Linked DNA regions of Homo sapiens: regions 2 and 3 are each linked to region 1. The links come from fine-mapping of genetic effects on gene expression. A gene starts in region 1. Each other region holds a variant in brackets. All regions are shown on one strand. Distances are from middle to middle.

Evidence for each region.
Region 2: its variant is fine-mapped to the expression of RIF1 in tibial nerve (GTEx, PIP above 0.99). The same link has a PIP of 0.9 or more in atrial appendage and nucleus accumbens.
Region 3: its variant is fine-mapped to the expression of RIF1 in minor salivary gland (GTEx, PIP 0.91).

What each region holds. Positions count from the first base shown.
Region 1 is chr2:151,404,927-151,413,209 of GRCh38, reverse strand. RIF1 (replication timing regulatory factor 1) reads right to left here and starts at 3,308. Exons shown (of 36, transcript NM_018151.5): 1 at 3,177-3,308; 2 at 2,683-2,796; 3 at 1,872-1,950. The coding sequence starts at 2,786. RefSeq lists enhancers at 3,236-3,395, 3,000-3,698, 3,699-4,397 and a silencer at 4,101-4,395.
Region 2 is chr2:151,474,755-151,483,037 of GRCh38, reverse strand. RIF1 (replication timing regulatory factor 1) reads right to left here. Exons shown (of 36, transcript NM_018151.5): 36 at 866-8,181. The coding sequence ends at 7,967. Among named protein-coding and RNA genes, the nearest start is that of RIF1, 69 kb to the right of the region's middle. The variant T/C (reference allele first, on the strand shown) is at 4,972.
Region 3 is chr2:151,430,474-151,438,473 of GRCh38, reverse strand. RIF1 (replication timing regulatory factor 1) reads right to left here. Exons shown (of 36, transcript NM_018151.5): 10 at 5,246-5,397; 11 at 2,894-3,011; 12 at 1,471-1,647; 13 at 1,123-1,233. Among named protein-coding and RNA genes, the nearest start is that of RIF1, 25 kb to the right of the region's middle. The variant A/G (reference allele first, on the strand shown) is at 4,565.

The DNA of each region.
Region 1 (8,283 bases):
AAATACAAAAAAAAAAGTAGCTGGGCGTAGTGGCACATGCCTGTAACCCCAGCTACTTGAGAGGCTGAGGCAGGAGAACGGCTTGAACCCAGGAGGTGTTCAAGCCATTGCACTCCAGCCTGGGCAACAAGAGCAAAACTCCGTCTCAAAAAAAAAAAAAGTATGCAATAGAATTCCTGATCCTATAAATACTCAATACACGAAAGTGCATGTCTTCACATCTAATTATTATAATATGGAATATGATAATGAAGAAAATGGAATAAACACTGATATTAAGTAACTAGCACACAATAAAGTTTCTGCTTACACAAAAAATGTTGATGACTGTGACACCACCAAGAGTAGGCAGTATCTCTGTTAATACTTCGCCAAAAATCACGTTAAAATGTACATGTCTGGATGAAACACTTGTTTAAAGGCACACGGCTGGGCACGGTGGCTCACACCTATAATCCTAGCCCTCTGAGAGGCCAAGGCGGGTGGATCACCTGAGGTCAAGAGTTCAAGATCAGCCTGGTCAACATGGTGAAAGCCCGTCTCTACTAAAAATATTAGCTGGGTGTGGTGGGGGCATGCCTGTAATCCCAGCTACTCAGGAGGCTGAGGCGGGAGAATCACTTGAACCTGGGAGGCAGAGGTTGCAGTGAGCTGAGATTGTGCCACTGCACTCCAGCACGGGCGACACAGCAAGACTCTGTCTCAAACAAACAAAAAGCACAAAAGCTGGGCATGGTGGCACCTACTTGTAATCTCAGCTACTAAGGAGGCTGAGGTGGGAGGATCGCTTGGACCCAGGAGTTCAAGACTGGCTTAGGCAACCTATCAAGACCCCCACCTCAATTTTAAAAATTAAAAACAAAAATAAAAGCACAAGAACAAGGTCATAATAAAAACAAACAAAAAAAATTAAAAAAAGAGAACAAGGTCATAAAAATGAGAACTCAAACTTTGGAGATAAAAGTTCAACTTTTTCATTCTAAAAACAAGGAAATTTAAAAGATGTTAAGGATAGTCAGGAAGCCATTAAGTAGGCAAGTGAAGACAGGAACACAGGTCCACAGTATGATGTCAAACATCATTTCCCTAAAGCAAAAATGATAACGGTTGTAGCAAAAACTGAGGGTGAATGAGGAAAAAGAAATTAATGCTACCTAGATTAGACCAAAGACAATTGTAATTTTAGAAGCACTTACTTAGATGTAGATTCCCAAAAGGAAAGAAAACAGATTAATCTCTGATCTCTGCTTTCAAGAGCACAAACTCAGATTCAAGTGCCCCTAGGCAACTTTAGGCAAATTAAATTAATTTCTTCACCTGCAAAGTGATCATTAAGAAATAATCTCATGGAACCATGGAGAGTTAAGTGATAAAGCGTGTAAGGTAATTAAGAAAGTACCTGAGAAGCTTTAAGTAACAATAAAGAGTATTATAATCAGTATTATTGCTGTTATTTTAGATTCAAAGCTTTTGAGTCAACTGGCAAAACTTTTAAAAACCACCAAAAGTGGCTGGACACAGTGGCTCACTCCTGTAATCCCAACACTTTGGGAGGCTGAGGCAGGCGGATCACCTGAGGTCGGGAGTTCGAGACCAGCCTGACCAACATGGAGAAACCCCTTCTCTACTAAAAATACAAAATTAGCCGGGGCGGTGGCGGATGCCTATAATCCCAGCTATTCAGGAGGCTGAGGCAAGAGAATCGCTTGAACCCGAGAGGCGGAGGTTTCAGTGAGCCGAGCCCGAGCCTGAGCCATTGCACTCTCGCCTGGGCAACAAGAGCAAAACTACACCTCAAAACAAAAAAACAAAACCAAAAAAAAAAACCAAACTACCAAAAGTGAAAAACTGTTTAACAAACAGATACATACCTTTAAAACTTTGTACAGCCGAGGAAGTTTTTTCTCAATTTCTGTAATTACTTCTTTTCCTTCTTCTCCAGTCATACGACTTAAAAAGCAGGAAGAACACAAGTTTAAGTAGTTGACAGGAAAAAAAAAAATACTCTCAAAAATACATGTACAATCTTTTTAAAAATTACTTTCTAACTCCTGCAAATGAATTGACCCAGTAGGTAAGGTCCTTAAGGGTATACAGAATATATAATGCAATATATATCAGAAATGAAAGTAGAAAAACCCTCAGAATAAGTTTTTACATCGAGTACATGCAAGTTGTGACAACCTGACTCCAAAAAGACAGAACAGGGATCCCTATTCCTAGTTACTAACGATTTGCTAAGCCTTTCCAAAGGGTTTTACAAAACTTTAGTACATTTCTATGAAAATTACTTTGAAGCATTTTGCAATTAATAAAAATCAGTGTATTGCTCTGTTAAAAAAACTCTGGGTAGCCACATTTTCCCAACACATCGGAGGTTTACACTGAAGACCCCTCCTCCAACAACTACTTCCAACCGAAACTTTTAAAAATCCCTCGCTTGCAAAACACACGTGCATGCTCCCTCGTTCCAAACACACACCTCAAGCGCAGCAGCAGCAGTACCCGGGAACGTCACCTAGAATACATCTCCCCCGCCCCCCAAGGCGTCCGCGACTCGGGCGTCCTCACATTTGCTAGACTTCTAGAACTCACATTCATTCTACGCGCCCCTCCCAACCACCTTCTTTCTCCCCACTATAGAGCGCCCCACTCTCCGCTACGCCCCGTGGCGGACCTCACCTGGTCAGAGTCAGGTAAGCGTCAGTCTGCCCTCCATGGGAGGCAGAAGGGTCTTCCAAAGTCTCCAACAGCGGCGCGAGGGGGCTCTGACCCCTGGCCGTCATGTCGGCCACCCTGAGGCCCGAACCGGAAGAGGAGAAAATCCAGTGACCGATGGAAACAGCCCCGCGGCGGCCCAGTGTGAGTCCGGCCCTCACACCCGCACGCCCGCCCGGGCCTCACAGCCACGCCGCGTCTGCACCCCAGGCCTCCGAATCACCAAACCCCAGCGCGAACCTCCTCCGGCGCCCGACACCAGACACCTGAGCCCACGCCACATTCGGGCCTGGGCCCGCTCCCGCCACCACTTTCCCGGGCAGCTTTCAACAGAGGGAGGAGATCGGCGGAGGGCGGGAGAAGCCCGGGGAACGAGGCATCTCGCCGCGAGGGGGCGGAGGGTGGGCAGACTGAGGGTTCCCCGCGGCCTACCACTGTCACCCCGATATTTATCCCACCTAGGAAGATCAGGACAGGGTTCTCTCCGCCTCTGCCCCTCAGCACCCAGACGCTGCCAGAGCTCGACTTTCCCAGCTCCGGCTGTTTACTCACGCGTGCGGCGCGCTCCCTCCTAGACCAAGATGGCGGCTGGGCGGGCCCAGGAGTGCGCGGGAGTAGGTTAGGCCTGGCGGGAGAAGTTCGAGCCAATCCAACAGTCAGCGGCACACCGGAGTTATCGATCGCCTCCCTTCCCATCCCTTCCCATCCCTTCCCTGCCCAGCTGCCGCGTCACGCCCCTCTGGTGAGCATCAGGTGGTGGTGTTTTGCCTAAGGCGAGAGACTTGAAATTCAAAATGTGAGTTAATTGCTCAGACTCACTAGACTGAACATAGTGGGCCCTCAGACTAAGTGTTCAAACTCCAAGTCCAGTGCTTGTTGAAGTTTTAGCAACAAATCAGTTAGCAAAAGGAGATAACGTACTGTTGGGTTTAAGACTAAGAGCTGGCCGGGCGCGGTGACTCACACCTTGTAATCCAAGCACTTTGGGAGGCCGAGTCTGAGGTCAGGAGTTCGAGACCAGCCTGGCCAACACATGGTGAAACCCCGTCTCTACTTAAAAAAAACAAAAATACAAAAATTAGTTGGGTGTGGTGGCGCACGCCTGTAGTCCCAGCCACTTGGGAAGCTGAGGCAGGAGAATCGCTTAAACCCGGGAAGCGGAGGTTGCAGTGGGCCGAGATCACGCCACTGCACTCCAGCCTGAGCGACAGAGTAAGAGTAAGACTCCGTCTCTCAAAAAAAAAAAAAAAGAAAGAAAGAAAAAGAAAAGAACTGTATCTCAAGCTGGTCTAGATTCCAGCTGGTCTAGGTTCCATGTGACTTTAGCAAGTTAATTAACCTATGCCTCAATTTCCTCCTCTATAAAATAGGGCTTTTAATAGGTGAAGTGAGAAAAGGTTGGAGAGGCCAATGGTTCTCAGGTCTTAAGCGTACATAACAATGGCCTGGGGATATTCGTTATTAAACTGCAGATTCCTGGGCCCCGCCCATATGCATTGTAATTCAGTAGATTTAGGTAGCTCCCGAGGATGTGCATTCTTCTGTTAGGCCCCTGGGGGGTTGAAGGGTGGGATTTGGCCAGGGCTTCTTCCCTAGAGAAACGTCAGTAAACACAATGACAGTCATTTCTCCTTACTGTGAATATGCTGCTCCTCCCCCGCCTTTTTTTTTTTTTAAGACGGAGCCTCGTTCTTTCGCCCAGGCTGGAGTGCAGTGGTGCGATCTCGGCTCACTGCAACCTCTGCCTCCCGGGTTCAAGCGAGTCTCTGACTCAGCCTCCCGAGCAGCTGGGATTACAGGCGCCCGCCACCACACCTGGCTAATTTTTGTACTTTTAGTAGAGACGGGGTTTCACCATCTTGGCCGTGCTGGTCTCGAACCCCTGACCTCGTGATCCACCCGCCTCGGACACCCAAAGTGCTGGGATTACAGGCGTGAGCCACCGCGCCCGGTCTGCTTCTCCCCTTTTCATATGCCTTCGTGCACTCTCCACAACAGACAGGATTGCATTAACTCTAAATCAGACACATGAAGCCCAGCAGCAATGGAACTCTCCATCATGGGTTCCTGGCCCAGGATTTGAGCCCTCACTCACATGTGCTGCAACTCTCAGCTCTAGAAGTGGGATGTTGCTTTTTGCTCTTCTTTGTGTCATCTGCACTTAGCAAAATGACTGCCAAACGACGCAGTACATACATAGTATGCTTATATATATATTTATTTATTTATATGTATTTATATATATTTATATTTATTTACATATATTTATATATATACACACACACACATACATATATACATATACATATATATATATATATATATATTTTTTTTTTTTTTTTTTTTTTTTTTTTTTTTGAGACGGAGTCTCGCTCTATCACCCAGGCTGGAGTGCACTGACCTGATCTCAGCTCACTGCATCCTCCGCCTCCTGGGTTCAAGCGATTCCCCTGCCTCAGCCTCCCGAGTAGCTGGGATTACAGGCATGCGCCACCACGCCCAGCTAATTTTTTGTATTTTAGTATAGACAGGTTTCACCATGTTGGCCAAGATGGTCTTGATCTCCTGACCTCGTGATCAGCCCGCCTCGGCCTCCCAAAGTGCTGGGATTACAGACTTGAGCCACCACGCCTGCCTCTACCCATTCATTAGAACATAAATTCTGTGAGAACAGGGATTTTGCTTTATTTTTTTCATAATTTCCCATTTGTAATGAAAGGACTACGGTGGTCATGTTGCTTGTATTTCTTTCATATGTATGGTTCTTTGATCTTCCAAAAATGTTATGTTTTAAATTTTATTATTTTTAAAGACAAGGCCTTGCTCTGTCACCTGGGTTGGAGTGCAGTGGTGTGATTGTGACTTACTGCAGCCCTGAACTTCTTGGGCTCAAATGATCCTCCTGCCTCAGCCTTATAAGTAGCTCAAAAATGTTATGTAAGATTTTATCATTGTCATTCCTGTGCCTAAAGTTCTCCAGCCATTCCCATCAGTAACAGGATGGATTTCAAAACTTTTGACATAACATGCAAGCCTATCATGATTGGGCCACTGCTTGTCCTTCATCTCCAGATTACTCCCACTTCATCAGATTCTGAACAGTCTGCTAAGATCTCCAGCTTCTCTGTGTCTTTGAAGACTTTTATTCAGAGCATGTATTTAGAATATTAATTACCTTCTTCAAGAGTAATAAATAAGAGTCAGGTGGCTCACACCTATAATCCCAACACTTTGCAAGGCTGAGGCAAGTGGATCACCTGAGGTCAGTTCAAGACCAGCCTGGCTAATATGGTGAAACCCCTTCTCTACTAAAAATACAAAAATTAGCCAGGCGTGGTGGTGCATGCCTGTAATCCCAGCTACTCAGGAGGCTGAGGCAGGAGAATCGCTTGAACCCAGGAGGCGGATTCAAGCCAAGATTGTGCCACTGCATCGCAGCCTGGGCAACAGAGCAAGACTCCATCTTAAAAAAAAAAAATCAACTAAAATCACACCTTTTTGTGAAATCTTTCCCTCATCTACTCTCCAACCACACACATTCTCTTCATGGAGAATTAAATGCTCCTGCCTCCCTCCTATCATGCTATAGATCTGATAAAATGAGTATCTCATTAATTTATTATTGTTTGGTTATAGGTGTTTGAGTGCAGTGGCAGAGTTGAGAGTTATCCTGATGGGGATTAATTCCATCTGTAATCTCATCTCATCAGTGCCCCTCCCTCCTATTTGACATTTTCTCAATCTGATCTAGAGTGCTAAGGGATTACAGAATGAAAACAAATACCCTTCCCCACCCAGACCCCTCTTCACACACCTTTACAACTTGGTTGCTACCCCAAAACTTCTCTTTTATAGAAATTCCATATAAATTTATATAGAAATATTTATAGCCACCCTCATGGATCTGCTACCTTTGGGCAATAAATTCATAGTACCTAGCACTCAATAAATATAATTTGAAATAATTTGTTCATATATTAATTCATCCATCTATCATCTAACTAATACACGATTTCTATCTTTCCCTCTCTAAATCCTATATCTCTTCTCCCCAGATCATCTTCCCTTTCTAGATGCCTTATATCTGCAATCCAATATTCCTTTCTAACTTCCTCATTTATGTTTTTTTGTTTTGTTTTGTTTTGTTTTGTTTTGAGACAGGGACTTGCTCTGTCACCCAGGCTGGAGTGCAGTGGTGCAAACATGGCTCAATGCAGCCTCTACCTCCTGGGCTCAGGTGATCCTCTCACCTCAGCCTCCTGAGTAGTTGGGACTACAAGAATGCACCACCATGCCTGGCTAATTTTTATTTTTTGTAGAGATGGAGTCTTGCTATGTTGCTCAGACTGGTCTCAAACTCCTGGGCTCAAGCAATTCTCCCACCTTAACCTCCCAAAGTGCTGAGATTATAGTCTTGAACCACCATGCCCAGCCACATTAAGCACACATTACTCAGCAAACGTCAAGCCTATAATCTATATCTATCAATGACTCCTTTCTCTTACTTGTCCCCAGTGGTCCTAATGATTCTCCCTTCTCAATAATTCTTAGATCTACCCACCAATGTGTATCTAAAATCTCAATTTATAGCCTAAATACACCTAAACATATTATTTCTTAAAAAAAAAAAACAAAAAAAGTTTTTATTGAGTGCCTGGTGCCATACATGCCTTATCTTTTTTTTTTTTCTTTTCGAGACAGAGTCTTGTTCTGTTGCCCAGACTGGAGTGCAGTGGCACAATCTCAGCTCACTGCAACCTCAAATGTTGCAGTGTTCAAGTGATTCTCATGCCTCAGCCACCCAAATAGCTGGGATTTCAGGTGTGTACCACCATGCCCAGCTAATGTTTGTATTTTTGTCAGAGACGGGATTTCACCATGTTGACCAGGCTCGTCTGGAATGCTTGACTTCAAGTGATCCACCTTCGTTGGCCTCCCAAACTGCTGGGATTACAGGAGAGAGCCAACACGCCCAGCCCATGCAAGCATTATCTCATTTATTTCTCACAATAATTCTAAGATGAATTACTTTCCTGGATTTACACATAGGCCATGTAAAGCTTAAAGAGTAAATTAAAACAGAGAACTTTAATCTAGCCATGTGTAACAACAAGTCTACTTGAACTACTTTCATTCATCAACATGTAATGAGCTCTACCCTGCACAAGGCACGGTGGTAAAATGGCTTTCATGATAGATTTATTACTGAATCTTGTAAGAAAAATAAAGTGTAAAGTCCTATGGGAGCCCATTATGTAAAGGGCTCATATAGTAATTCGTTTAGTAAAATCAAGTATTCATCTGTAATCCAAATTATTATAGTAAATGCAATGAGCTCAGCTTTGGATCAAAGAAATGAGTGTTTAAATACTTGCTGTGCCACTGTGTGACTTGAGATCCTCCAGAGAAATGCTTAAAGTTACCACATCTTCATCAATAAAATTAGAAGAATATACTTACATCAAAGTTCAGTGCCTAGCACAAATCTTGGCACATAATAGGTATTTAATAAGCATTTATTAAGTGATTGTATTAATTTAAAATTTCTTAATTCTTTTCTAAAAT
Region 2 (8,283 bases), 70 kb before region 1:
TGTTAATTCAGATGAGGCCCTAATCCAATGGCCTTGCTATCCTTATAAAAGGGAAATTTAGACAAATACACAGGCACATAGGTAGAAAGTCATATGAAGATGGGAGATTGGGGAAATACCTCTACCTGTCAAAAATGGCCAGCACACCACCAAGCTAGCTGGGGAGAGGTATGGGACAGATAACTTCCACACAGTCCTTAGAAGGAACAAACCCTGCTGATACCATATCTCAGACCTCTACTATTCAAAACTGAGACAATACATTTCAGTTGTTTAACTTATTAGGTTTGTGGTACTGTTACAGCAGCCCTAGGAAACTAATACAGTGTCTTTCAACATCACTGTTTACCCTAATTGTTGTTGTTGTTGTTTTCCTTAAAACTATGGAGCTTTTCTTCGGCTGCCATCAACATGCTTGGTTCTGCAGAGGAAGTTAAGGTCATGTTGGGGTGAGGCATTTACTTCATCTGGTGACTAGCCTGGCAGTGCCACCTCTGCCCTCGCCCACACCATGTGGACTGCCTCTCCAAGCTTGCCTGCATCTACTCAGCCCTTATTTGACGAAACCTCTCTTCTAACAAGTTCAATGAGAAACTGAACTCATTAACAACAACAACAACAGAAAAACCACCACCTCTGGATTTAGAAACCAGTGGAACCCATAAAACTATGCATAAATCAGAAAACCTCTGTGGTTAAAAAGCAGGCCATAAAAGGGGAAAAAGAAAAGGAAGGGTTCATGTTTGTGGAGGAATATAACATACACTTTGTGGTATTTGAATTAAACTATTCATACTCATTTCAGATCTCACGAAAACAACAAAACAAAAAACCAAAATGTAGCCAACAAAAACAAGTACCAGAGTTTAGTTTTTATAGTTTTATTTCAGGTAAAAGTGCATTTCTTAAAAAAATGTTTCAATATCCAGTTTCCATTGGCAAGTGATAACAGTTAACCCTCAATGATTCATGAAAAGTTTTACTGTGAATCAAACATAGAATTCTGCCCCCCCTCAACAGTCATAAAGAACCAGAAATAGTAACTGTAAGTGTGCCTACTTCAAACACTGTATAAAGCAGTGGTCCCCTAACCTTTTTTCAACAGGGACCGGTTTCGTGGAGACAATTTCCACAGACACAGGTGTTGGGGTAGATGGTTTCAGGATGAGACTGTTCCACCTCAGATCATCGGGTATTAGATTCTCATAATGAGCGCACAACCTAGATCTCTTGCATGTGCAGTTCACAATAGGGTTCACGCTCCTGTAAGAATCTAATGCCACCCAGGGGTTTGAGACCCCTAGTATAAAGCATTACACAATCAAATAAAACTGACTGCACCATTATTTCCATTATTTGCAGGTAACTGAGGAATGAACAAGTACTTCTGTTAGGCTTCAACTTAAATCATTTTTAAGACTTATCAAATACAAATACTTTGTGAATGTAAAACTAAGCTCTCTTAGCGTTTACCAAATGATCGGGACAACAATATTAGAGGGTTAATAAATGACTGATTTGGCATCTATCAGTCTTTTTGTAAGTGCTATCAGTCAGGTCTATCTACAGGAGGTAGTGCAGAAAGCAACTGATAATTCACAGACCATCAAGGTCCCTTAACATCATGGCAAATACGTAACTGTAGTTTGAGAGTTTAAGTAGGAAAAAGAAGTGTACTTATAAAGTAGTAGTGTTTCCTAGTATCTGTAATTTGAGCAATAGTAAAACACGTAAGTAAAATCAGGAGAAGCCATTCTGGAAAACACAGGGGTAACAGAAATTAAGTAATCAAGACCACATTCTGCCAGCTAGAAGCAAATAACTAAATTGACTAACATGCCATGCATGAGCAAAACCTTCCTCCATAAAAGGGATTGACAAACTCTTTAAAAGGCCAGGCAGTATTTTGACTGTTGGAAGCCATACAGACTCTGCTATACTACTAAACTCAGCCACTGTACCAGGAAAGCAGCTAAAGACAATAAGCACAGCTGTTCCAATAAAACTTTATTTCTGGATACTGAAATTTTAATTTAATATGTTTTCATGTGTCACAAAATGTCCTTCTTTTGACTTTTTTCACCATTAAAAAATGTAAAAACCAGTCTCAGCTCACAGATAGTACAAAAAACAGGTGGCATGCTAGTTTACCAATCTGTGCTCTGTAAAAAACTTAGGAGTTAAGACTGCCATCCTTCAGTTTCTATACTCAAAACCAATTTTGCTCTTAATTGTTTTCTTTTAGAAACTTCCTATTCTATAAAAATAAAAAATTCTTTAGACACTTGTTAGCTATTCAATAGTGTATCAAAATAATTGTTAGACTATACTCTATTTTCAGTTCCATGACACTTTATTTTGAAGATGATCTTCCTAGTTATATGTTGTTTATCCGTTTAAGAAACAAAGCTGCCTTTTGTTGGAAATACTTATTAACTTACTGCTTTTGTGGGAGTATTAATAATGTATTTTAACATAATCTCTCAGGGTATTTATGAACATCAATTATAATACTGTGCTATGTACAGAATAGCTCTCAGAGACTATAGGCTATCAGCTATTTCTGAAGTATACAGGAGTATATAGGACAGCTTGTCTCTCTACTAAATGTACTATGCATTAAAATTCCAGCTCAATCTGCCTTTTCCATTCTCTTCAACTCATCACTTCTCAGTGCATCAACTTCTATCAGCATATAAGCTTGCTGCCCAGTAAATTCAGCTTTATCTACAATTATAAATTGGCACACTGTGGCCAAAAATATTCCCTCTGCTACAAGTAGAGTACAAAAGTTAGAGTTTTTTTCTTACTTGTGACATCAACAATGGAAAATATTGTCTTCAATTTTTTAGGTAAGATGAACGGTTATCTTTTATTCCAACGGTATTTACAGCTTACCATAACACATTTGGTTTTAACTGTTCTTTGGAGAAAGGAAGGCTTAGTATGTAAAGAAAAAAATGATTAGGACCACATCGGAAAATTTAACATTCTATTTCAGAACTGAGTAAATTCTCACAACTGTTTAGACTACTATATTAAATATTTATAGATCTTCAAACTTCAATGACTTACACTTTAACGGCTACTTGCAAAGAGCAATATGTAAAGCCTGGCACATAATATACTTATTAACTGGACATCAGAAAGCACGAAACCCAATTTGTTTTACAGATCAAACTATCAATAAATTTTGATAAATTTTTAAAACCTATTACTTAACTTTCGGCTACATTTTCCTTAGTGCTTTCAGGGTAGTTCTTACAGATTATTTAAATATGTGAGGAAAATCTAACACCTTAACAGAATTCCAAGAAAAACTCACTTTTCGAGAATCATATTATTCAACTCCATCTTTCAAATTTCACTTTACGATGAAACAGGAATTTTCAACCACATAATATAACAGAAAATTAAGTGACCAGAGGTCCGCAGTATAATGACAGGGCATATCTGCTAGACTGACTTATTCATTATAGCACTACTAAATTTAACTGCCAGATTAATATTAGGGGTAGTGTTGATTTTCCATGTTTATTAATAACGATGATCCATAATAGAAGGCAAGATTTATTTAGAGACTAAATATATTCTAATACTTAGAAATCAACTTTTATATTAACAAAAACATAACCCACAAATACTCATGAGAAAATACTTTGTCTACTTTGCCTTATCAATAAGATTCTTTATAACTTGAAATTCTTAGTCTGCCTACTTAAAAAATAAATCGTCCATATTTTTAAAAGGCTCTTAAGCAAAATTCTTAACTTTCTTATAATTTTTGAACTTTAAGCCTTCAAAACCAGTCTGCATCCCCAATTCACAAAATTGACAGTTATAAAAGGACTTGAATCTGCCTGGCTTACCAAAACCTAAAACACAGCCTGAAGCCTCTTAGGCCCATCTACCAGCGCAGTTCACAGGCATCTGCATGAATCACCTGGGACTGTGTTTAAAAAGACTCACGGGGCCCAATGCAGATCTACTGAATCAGAATCCACTTGTTCATATGCACATCAAAGTTTGAGAGTACTATGTTAAAAATCAAAACCTCACTCTAATGTTTCTATACAAAGTACAAGGTCTTTCTAATGGCTTAGGAATAGGATAGACCATGGGTTGCAGCAATGAGGAAACAGTCTCCTCCCCCCACCCAAGTTTTAGTCTAATAATGCCAACTAACTGCTGTTTTATAGCCTCCTAGGCTGAATGACAAATTAACTTCTTGAAAATCAATTATGAAGAATATGAGATGAAACCTAGGCCTTTCTTACTGAATTAAAGTCAAAGTTGGAAGAAAAAAATTAACCCATTTATACTTTCTTTTTAAAAAGCAATTACTCTATTCTCACTCCTTTACACCTTAAAAAAATAAAACTTCACTTATATATTCACGATCCCCACCATTTCCCCCAATTTTGTTTCTTGCCTCACCACTTACTCTTCACATTTTTATGATGTTTAAATTGTAACAGAGTCTTTAACTATCTTATCTTCAAGCTGTACAGAAAAAAAAAAATCCATGGGCAATGTTAGAATTAAACTTTTTTTTTTTTTTTGCGAGACAGAGACTTGCTCTGTCGCGCAATGGCATGATCTCGGCTCACTGCAACCTCCGCCTAAAAGGTTCAAGCAATTCTCATGTCTCAGCCTCCTGAGTAGCTGAGATTACAAGTATGCGCCAACATGCCTGGCTGGTTTTTGTATTTTTAGTAGAGACAGGATTTCGCCACATTGTTCAGGTCAGTTTTGAACTCCTGGGCCAAAGTGATCCACCTGCCGGGCCTTCAGTCATGCTTTTAATGTGCGGGTTTAAATCCTGTTTTTGCCTGTATTATCCAACAGCATTATTTAACCTGATTCATCCTTTAACTATTTGGAATTAGAGTAAAGCTCCATATGATTCAACAATGGTTTTCAAACTTGTACAAGTGGCAAAGCAGCTTTAACAATGAGGTCACTGAAATA[T/C]TGAAAATTTAAATCCACTCTAAAATCCAAAATAGATTTCATAGATATGGAAATGATGGGCCAGGAGCGGTGGCTCACGCCTGTAATGCCACCATTTTAGGAGGCTGAGGCAGGTGGATATCTGAGGTCAGAAGTTTGAGACCAGCCTGGCTGACATGGTGAAACCCCGTATCTACTAAAAATACAAAAATTAACCAGTGGTGGTGGCAGGCACCTGTAATCCCAGCTATTTGGGAGGCTGAGGCAGGAGAATCGCTTGAACCCAGGAGGTGGAGGTTGCAGTGAGCTGAGATCGTACCACTGCACTCCAGCCTGGGCAGCAAGGGCGAAAACTCCACCTCAAAAAAAAAAGAAAATGGCCAGGTGGGGTGGCTCACGCCTGTAATCCCAGCACTTTGGGAGGCCGAGGCAGGCGGATCACGAGGTCAGATCAAGACCATCCTGGCTAACACAGTGAACCCCTTCTCTACTAAAAATATAAAAAATTAGCCGGGCATGGTGGCGGGCACCTGTAGTCCCAGCTACTTGGGAGGCTGAGGCAGGAGAATGGTGTAAACCTGGGAGGCAGAGCTTGCAGTGAACCGAGATCGCACCATTGCACTCCAGCATAGGCAACAGAGCAAGACTGTGTCTCAAAAAAAAAAAAAGATACTACATGACAATCCTGTATGCCACTAGTTTTTTCTTCTTAAATATGCATAAGACAATTAAGACACATTTGAGTGTTATTATGATCTGACATTTGTTTTATTAACCATTAGAAAAGATCTGAAAAAACGAATTCCATTTTAATAGTGAGACAACACAGTAGAGCTAATCATGGAATATTAATGTTTTGCTATTCGGGAATTACTAAGGGGGAAATTTGCAGGAAACTTTAAGGCAAGAATATTGCAAATAAGTTGCCAAAAATATATGCTTATAGCCATAGCAAAATGAAGATTTAGCATGCTTGTCTTTGCTCCCAAATATTTTTAAATGCAGCTTTATTAAACTATAATGTTTTTAAAATTAATACTTGTGCTTATATAAAATTCAGTGATTTAAGTACATGATACTCATTTGGTCACATTTTCTGCTATTACTGTTCGGCTTCCCAAGAATTTCATTCAATCAGCAAGTTTAGTTCACACAAACGTTAAGGCACAGAGTCATGAAACGAACTGATTTTAATTCTGAAGTGTGTTAAAGTAATCTGCTCCCCTCTGCCCCAAACACATATACATAGCTGCTTATTCATACCTGTTTGCTAAAAACTCATGTGCACCTCCTTACGGTTAAATATAATTTGGGAAATTAATGATGTAAAATGTAAATCATAATTATAATTCCTTTTAAGGAAATTAGTATTTTTCTTTAGTTACTTCAAGCCACAATCCTTAATTCAATGATCCCAGAATTCTTTACAAAACCATCCTTGGTATATGAATATCTTAGACCCAAAAATATCTGTGATTATGATGAATTTATGATGATGAAAAAAGACACCAACTTTTATAGAGATCCCTGAATATACGAGAGCTAAGGAGGCACAAGGATTAAACTTTCTATGACTTGCTGTAGAATGTGTGCCTTGCTAAGTAGGGATTAGCTTCTGAATAAAATGTGAAAACTGAGATCACTCACTCATTCTATTCAAAGAAGAAGTGAGATATACTGTCAGTTAAAAAGATGAAACAAATATGGGAAGTCAGGCACTAATATTAGTTGGCAAATTTTACAAAGGTTTTAATTACATACCTCTTTAAAAAAAGAAAACCTAGGCAACACAGACATATATTAAAAACATCAGTTTCAAATTTCTTCCAAGTTTGCTTTTAAATGAAGGTTTAAAAAGCAGATCAACTCTAGATTTTGTAGTCCAACTTGCTGTGAAATACTGAAACTAACTTTCCTTTAAGAAATCTTAAGGAGGCACACTTTCTAGTGGTGATACCCTCCTCCAAACCAAAAGTAGTAAGAAGGTAAGGGTATGAACAGCAAAGTTGTGTAACATTTTCTTATTTCTATAATTTTACTTATTCTGGATACTTTTAGAAAATAAACTCATGTTTTAACTAAGACTGTTAACCAAGTACAAAACTATTTGTTGTTGCATTTGCAGATACAGTATCCTACAAATATGTGCAGCAAGCCCATGAAGCACTTCCACCGTCGATACTGATATTTCAGTATTTAATATATACAAAATGTTTCTATTGAACAGAACCAAGGTATTCACAATAAGCTGCAGAAAAACCCATGCAATTAACAAAGAATGAAATTTATAAATTAAAAACATTGTCGTCTATACATAATGTACAATCATGCATTTAAAAATGAATACTATACGTCTCATAAGAATAAATTTTCAGTCAACTGCTGCTGCATGAATATTTGCTAATGCAAATGAATAAAATCTTAGTAAATTCTGCATTAATATTTTAACCGCCAGAAGTTGAAACTTTTCTCATTTTTCTTGAAAGCTGTCCAAAGTTGACATATGCAGGAAAAATTCAAATTCTTTCGCATTTCATTTGAGGTTTTTAACCAGTAACAAACTTCCTAAACCTCAGTCCCAACAAACATGAATTAAACAAACCAACAAACAAAAATATAAACACCTTTATCAGTTCAGCAAAAATTCAAATAAAAATGTTCAATTTTACTTAAAGTATTTTACATGTTTCACCAGAATATGCACGGGTTTAAGAAAGCATGAAATAAAATGTAAGTTCTGTTACTAGTTTTGCTTTCACATCTCAGTAAGATAATTAAATTTCCTGAAAAACCACGCATAGCAGCCAAGAATACATATTATGAAAAAAAAAAGGATCTTACATAATGAACTTACAAAATTGAACTTACATAATAAGTCACTGTCCTTCAGGGTTTGAAATGTTATCAACTTTGCAAAGAGTCTCTTCTTTGAAATTGTGCTATTATTTCAGAACTTGTTTCCTCAATCAAGAAATCCAGTGATGTTTAAAAAAACCTTCAATTTTCTCTGAAAATACTAAATAGAATTTTCATGGGATGGTGATCTCCAACGTGACTGTAGATTTTTTATTACAGAGTTTGCCATACAACTTAGTTTCTCGTGCATTTCAAATAGTTGGCTTCCTGAATAATTATGAAGATCTTCTGAATCCAGCTGAAGAGCAAGAGCACTAATCTGTGCCAGAAGGTTTTTGGATAATGGAATTTCTAAAGCAACAGGATCAATTATATCTAAAAGAGAAAAAAAAAACCACAATTAAATCTATACCAGACAAAAATTAAATTTTTTACATGATCTTTTAAGTTAGTCCAAGTGCCTAGGTTTCAAATTGA
Region 3 (8,000 bases), 25 kb before region 1:
AGACAGGGTCTTGCTCTGTCCAGGCTGGAGTACAGTGGCACAATCATAGCTCATTGTCACCTCAACAACCTGGGCTCAAGCAGTCTTCCCACATCAGCCTCCCAAGTAGCTAGGACTATAGGTACACACCACTACACCCATCTAATTATTTTTTTTTGTAAAGATAGCACTCTCACTACATTTCCTAGGCTGGTCACAAACATCTGCCTCAAGTGAACCTCCCACCTTAGCCTCTCCCAAACTGCCAGGATTACAGGCATGCGCTACCATGTCCAGCCATAAATGTGTTCCTTAAAACAACTATAACATGTTAACAATGAATTGTGTAACTAAGGGTAATTGTTTTATCTTTTTTTAAATTATCTTTCTTTTCTGAATTGAATGCCCACTACTTTTGGGGCAGAGATTGTTCACGGAGATTCAGAAGGATATCTAACAACCAATAGAAAAAATTTATGTGATTCATTGTGATTCTTTTTCCAACCAGTTAAAGAGCAAACAATTTTTGAAATTTCCTTTCCTCATTATTTGATAGGCCATGTAACACAGGAGTTTAGGCACAGATGCTAGAGCCATAGAGCTTGACACGGTACTACCACTCGTAAGTGACTCTGCATAACTTATGTACTTCCTGTATAACCCATTTTCTCATTTGTAAAATGAACTAACATGGTATGTTACTGCGAAAATTAAATGAATAAATGTAAAGTTCTCAATGCACAATCTGGCCAGTAGGTGGCACTATATAAATATTTGTTATTTTATCTTCATATTTTTTATTTTTTAATAGAGTCTTGCTCTATCACCCAGGCTGCAGTGCAGTGGCACAATCTTGGCTCACTGCAACTTCCACCTCCTGGGCTCAAGCAATTCTCATGCCTCCGCCTCCCGAGTAGCTGGGACTACAGGTATCTGCCAACATGCCCACCTAGTTTTTGTATGCTTTGTAGAGACAGGGTTTTGTCATGTTGCCCAGGCTGGTCTCGAACTCCTGAGCTCAAGTGATCCACTCACCTCGGCCTCCCAAAGTGCTGGGATTACAGGTGTGAGGTACTGTGACTGGCCTATTTTTTCTTCTTTTTAAACACACATTTGAGCAAATAATAAATCAAATTCTCTTACCGGGGGCATCTTTTCCAACTGCAACAAAGCTATCATGAACAGCAGTGATAAGTGTATTTGCATGTTTGGAAAAAAAGGAAGGGCTGCTGATTAACGGATGTTCCAATGGCTCTGAAAGGGAAGAATAAAAGATAATTATGTAAAACAACAGATTTATGAAATACATTTCTCACTATAAAACTTTAAAATGTCTATTAAGTAGGTGTGTTTTCTATAAAAAAAAGATTCATATTTCATACACAACTGTAAAATATTTTGGCTGCGACAAAATAACACCTCTCCTCACCCCAATGCATTAAGTCCTAGACTGTTTTAGTAATTAAAATTATTCTTAAAACCTTTAAATACCTAAGCTCAGCACAAGTTTATTTTGCTTAGCAAAACTCAAGGCTTCTGGACCCAACAAGAAATGAAGCAACATTTCAAGTCCCAAAAGTTGAATGGATGGGATTGTGGCCATTCCACCTAAATTCGAACTCAGGTTCATTCGGGGAGTTCCCGGGGCTCCGTACGGGGAGGAAGCACCTTTAAGAAAAAAAAAAAAAGAGTTAAGTCATACAAGCTCATTTTATATTAGCTACCCAAATGCATACATTTCATTTCAATGAAACTTTTAAAAACAGAGTTTAAATGTCTCAGGCATTAATCCATACCTTGAAATATTAATATGCAGGTATTCTGTAACAAATTTTGAAGACTCAGATGGCAAACAAAATAATACATATGACACACATGTATATCATATGTCTTTCAATGACATACATAAAGAAGACACTTTATAACTGCTGAGATTTTTTTTTTTTTTTTTTTTGAGACAGAGTCTCATTGTACTGCCCAGGCTGCAGTGCAGTGGTACAATCATAGTTCACTACAACCTCAAACTCCTGGGCTCAAGCACTTCTCCCATCAGCATTCCAAGTAGCTGTAACTATAGATGGATGGATACCACTGTGCTCAGTTAATTTTTAAATTTTTTGTAGAGACAGGGTCTCACTATGTAGCACAGGTGGTATCCAACTCCTGGCTTCAAGTGATCCTCCCACCTCAGCCCCCTAAATGCTGAGATTATAGGTGCCTGCCACTGCACCTGGCTGAAGTGTTGTTTTTGTTTTATTTTGTTTTTTTTGAGACTGAGTCTCACTCTGTCGCCCAGGCTGGAGTGCAGTGGCGAGATCTCGGCTCACTGCAACCTCCGCCTCCCAGGATTCAAGCAATTCTCCTGCCACAGCCTCCCAGGTAGCTGGTTATTACAGGGGCCCACGACCACGCCCGGCTAATTTTTTTATTTTCAGTAGAGACTGGGTTTCACCGTGTTGGCCAGGCTGGTCTCAAATGCCTGACCTCAAGTGATCTGCTGGGCTCGGCCTCCCAAAGTGCTAGGATTACAGGCGTGAGCCACCTCACCTGGCCGATGTGTTGTTTTTAATAGCGCTAAGATTCTGGTTCTAAAATCAACAGCTTCATGTTAGCTGCTCTGAGGCTTTTTTTGCAAGGCACCTCACATAATGTACTGAAAAAACATCCGTCTCTTCTAACCACAACAATGCGCTTACAACAGTAATCAGTAATATTAAAAAAAAAAAACAAAAAACAGAAAAACATGATAATGGATTTTTTGGTAATGAACCTAAAAATTATGAAGTGCTTCATTTCAAACGAAAAACACTGAGCAAAACCTCTCAAAGCCTTTTTTTTTCCTACTTCAAAACTATGCTTCTAGGTCAACAAAGCCTGATTAAAAAAGCAAAAAACAAGAATATCTACCTCTTACCTTTGTGTACAGGAGTCATAGGATTTAAACCTGGAGATGTAGCTACATGACACGAATTGCCCTGAGGTGAGGCATTAGAATCAATGCTTATTGTACTTTGAATCAGAGGCACACAAACCTATGGGGTAAAAGAAAACATCGATCTATAAACTATACAACTGTCACAGTTTTTAAAAGCCTCACATAATATAAATTTCATTAAATGGAGCCTTAATATATTCCATTTTACAGATCGTTTCCATGCACAAACAGGCTAAAAAGTGGAATTTGGAAAAAATATGAACATTACAACTGTATTTGCCCTAAATATGTATTACCTAAATTTGTTTATATACATCAACATCTGAACTGTACACATTACTGGTAGACTAATTTTAACTTTTTAAAACTCTGGAAAACATGAACTCAGACAAAGCTCATTTCTAACATCATCCTAGTACCAGTCACATGTAGTTACCAAATAAATTATTCCAATTAATGTATTGGACAAATGCAAAGAATTAGCCTATTGGACCCTTATAATGGTAGAATTTGGAAAATTCATTATGATGCAAATTACATTGTTGACAATGCCCATCTTCAATTATTTCATGTTATATAAATTTAAAACTCAATAATTAAAAAATTAAAAACTGAATAAAAATGGCTTAAGTATATTTATAAGTCCTCCTGTCCAAGAATGCATTCCCTGCTATGCAGCTATTTATATAAAATATAAAATATACCCCTAAAATATACCCCCAGAAGTAAAATGTACCCCCAAAATCCAAAATAAGTGATAAAGAAATGAAAAAGATGTTAGCAGAGCTGCTCCTTTTAACTGTAAAAAAATTCAAAAACCAGGCTGGCGCAGTGGCTCATGCCTGTAATCCCAGCACTTTGGGAGGCCGAGGCAGGCAGATCACAAAGTCAGGAGATCGAGACCATCCTGGCTAACACAGTGAAACCCCGTCTCTACTAAAAATACAAAAAATTAGCTGGGCGTGGTGGCGGGCGCCTGTAGTCCCAGCTACTCAGGAGGCTGAGGCAGGAGAATGGTGTGAACCCAGGAGGTGGAGTTTGCAGTGAGCCGAGATCGTGCCACTGCACCCTAGCCTGGGCAACAGAGCGAGACTCCATCTCAAAAAAAAAAAAAAAAAAAAATTCAAAAACCAAGGATGGAAATAACTGCAAATAACTCAAAAGGTTTAGGTTAAGATTAAACTTTATATCTAAATGCCAGTAAGGATATGCAAATCCTGAAGAATTCGTAAAATCATTGTGTAACAATTAAAAAGAACCTATAAATAGGATTCAGTCATTGGTTATCACTATGCAGCCTAGAAAACGGAGCAAGAAATAAAAAAACAAGAACTGGTCCAACCTTGTATCTACCCAGTGTAGCACTTGATTTCTCTCTTTTTTTTTTTTTTTGAGATGGAGTCTCACTCTGTTGCCTGGGCTGGAGTGCAGTGGTGTGATCTCAGCTCACTGCAACCTCCATCTCCTGGGTTCAAGCAATTCTCCTCAGCCTCCCGAGTAGCTGAGACTACAGGCACATGCCACCACACCCAGCTACTTTTTTGTATTTTAGTAGACACGGGGTTTCACCATGTTGCCCAGGCTGGTCTCAAACTCCTGAGCTCAGGCAACCCACCTGCCTCTGCCTCCCAAAGTGCTAGGACTACAGGC[A/G]TGAGTCACCGCGCCCGGCTGATTTCTATTTCACTGATGCTGGTTTTCTTCTCAATTATATTCCAAATGCTCTAGGGGAAAAAACCCTTTGTTTAAAATCATAATGCTTGTAGAGTAAGAATGTTTGAGTACTTGCTAATTTAAAAACATTTCAGGGCCAGGCGCGGTGGCTCATGCCTGTAATCCCAGCATTTTGGGAGGCTGGCATGGGCGAATCATTTGAGGCCAGGAGTGCGAGACCAGCCTGGCCACCATGGTAAAACCCTATCTACACTAAAAAATACAAAAAATTAGCCAGGTGTGGTCGTGCGCCTGCAGTCCCAGCTACTCGGGAGACTGACACAGGAGAATCACTTGAACCCAGGAGGTGGAGGTTGCAGTGAGCCGAGATCGTGCCACTGCACTCCATCCTGGGAAACAGAACAAGACTCCATCTCAAAATAAATAAATTAATAATAAATAAATAAAAACATTTCAGGTAAAGGGGCTCCATTTCAAGCAACTGAACAATATCCCTTGTGGGAAATGAATTTAAGTTCTCTGCCAGTAAAGTGAAAGACCTTTTATATGTTCTAGTCTGCTAATAAATAGCAAAAATAACACCACAGGATTACATTGGTAAGAATTTAAGAACACATTAACAAAAACATAAAGTGCTATAGTCAACACTTGTAATGTTACCTGTTCAAAATTAGCAGGAAGATGAGGTCCAAGTCTCATCAGTAAATACCACCAGACTTCTAGTTTTGTTAATGCTAGAGTTTCTGTTCTCACATGGATGGAACTCAAAGGCTGCATTAACAACTTGAGTCTTTTTGCACTACATAGTATATCTTAAAAGAAAATAAGCACACAGTTAAAGAGACGTCCAAGCTAAAGATTAACTCTAACACTAGCTATGCAACAGTCTTTTATCACAGCAAGAGAACGTATTTTAAAATTTTTTTAAAAAAATAAATCCCCAGGCTGTCCTTGCTCTACCCAAAACTTGCATTTTGATAAACTACAGTACAGCTGAACCAAAAACACTCAATAAATCAAAAATATATTTTAAAACAAATAAGTAATATTTATTAGATATTGTGTGCCGGGGCAATTTCCCACCAGGGAATACTTCAGGTTGGTTACAAATGAGGGGATGCTATTGACATCTTAGTGAGTAGAGACTACGGACGCTACTAAACTTCAACACCACACCAGGACAGTCCTGAAAAACAAATTATCCAGCACAAAATGCCAAAACTTTGACAAATACTGTCCTAGCTGCTTTAGCATTCTCATTATCCCCATTTGACAAAGAAACGGAAGCATATGTTTACATTATGTCAAAAAAGGCTATCATTTTAAAAATCAATTATTAATATATTCCATCAAAAATCATTACTACTGGGGCCACTGACTGAATACATTTTTGAAATCTAAATAGATTCATTTAGATTCAGGACTGCCCTATCTTAACAATAATCATATTGTTAAAATTCAGCATAGAAATTAAATCCAATCTTCAGAAAAAACATTTATGCCAAATGAGTAAGACTGGGGATATGTAAAATTAAGACACAGTCTGTGCTAAAATAACTTGTCAAAAAGACCTTAAAAGGGCTGGGCGTGGTGGTTCACGCCTATAATCCTGGCACTTTGGGAGGATGAGGCAGGTTGGTCACTTGAGGTCAGGAGTTTGAAACCAGCCTGACCAACATGGTGAAATCCTACCTCTACTAAAACTACAAAAAGGTTAGCTAGGCATGGCGGTGGCTCCTGTAATACCAGCTACTCAGGAGCCTAAGGCAGGAGACTCGCTTGGACCCAGGAGGCAGAGGTTGCAGTGAGCTGAGATCACACCACTGCACTCCAGGCTGGGTGACAGAGTGAGACTCCGTCCTGAATAAATAAATAAATAAATAACTTGAAAAGGATTCTGAAACATCAATCAGGCCATGTATTTGGTGGAATGGCACTCAACAATGTCTGTTACAACTACTCTGCCATTTAGCTATTTCAATTAACAGTTCTATAAGAAAATAAAGGCTATCACTGTATGAACAAGTTCTCCAGTCCAAGACACTTCCTTTTTGGGGTCTCCTATTCTTTTTGTTCATTCATTCATTCATTCATTCATTCATTCATTCAGAGACGGAAGTTTCACTCTTGTTGCCCAGGCTGGAGTGCAATGGCATGATCTCGGCTCACTGCAGCCTCCTCCTCCCGGATTCTCCTGCCTCTGCCTCCCAAGTAGCTGGGATTACAGGCATGTGCCACCATGCCCGTCCAACTTTGTATTTTTAGTAAAGATGGGGTTTCTCCATGTTGGTCAGGCTGGTCTCTAACTCGAGAACTCAGGTGATCTGCCCGCCTCTCAAAGTGCTGGGATTACAGGCGTGAGCCACCACGTCTGGACTCTATTCTATTTATGAGAAGAGCTCCATAATAATATCTCTACAGTAGCAGAGATTAATTGCCATGCAATAAACCAATCTCCTTTAATTAAAAAATCTGATTTTACACAGGACAGTGATGGGTGCCCAATTTTTGACTACTTTTTCTAGTCGGCCACTGAGCCATTCTACCCAGTAAAATTTAAGTGGATGTGTATATAAGATTCTTAGAAGGCTATTTCTAGGTATAGGTGAGTAAGCTGTGAAGAAGTCTTTTCTGCTCTTCTGCCTTCCCTCCTTCCTGTCTGCAATTAAGACAAATCAAAGATGGCAGAGTAAAAATACAGTCATCTGATTCCTTGATGACTTCCCGGATCCACAGCATCAGTCATGGATTCCCTAGCTCTGAACTTATTTTTAACTTACTATCTTTAAACTACTCTTATTTTATGCTTTAACTTAATTCCTAAAGATTGTAGTCCCAAACATTACCTCACACTTCTGGGTTTACAGTTAGACCCAAATACATGCCAGCTCATAAACATAAAAATAAGCTACAATTTCAATTAAAAATTGTAGTAGAATGAGCACAGTGGCTCACACCTGTAATCCTAACACTTTGGAAGGCTGAGGCAGGTGGATCACTTGAGTCCAGGAGCTCGAGACTAGCCCGGGCAACGTGGTCAAATCCCGCCTCTACAAAAAATACAAAAATTAGCCAGAAATGGTGGCACACGCCTGTAGTCCCAGCTACTTGGGGGGGCTGAGGTGGGAGGATCACTGGAGCCCAGGAGGTCAAGGCTGCAGTCAGCCACTGCACTCCAGTCTAGGTGACAGGGCAAGACCCTAAGTGGGGGGAGGGGGGGAAACTATGCCCCCAAAATGTACCAGTATTTTAAATAAAAGTAATTATAGGGCTGGGAGCAGTGGCTCTTGCCTGTAATCCCAGCACTTTGGGAGACCGAGGCAGGCAGATCACAAGGTCAGAAGTTCGAGACCAGCCTGGCCAGTATGGTGAAACCTTGTCTCTACTGAAAATACAAAAATTAGCCAGACGTGGC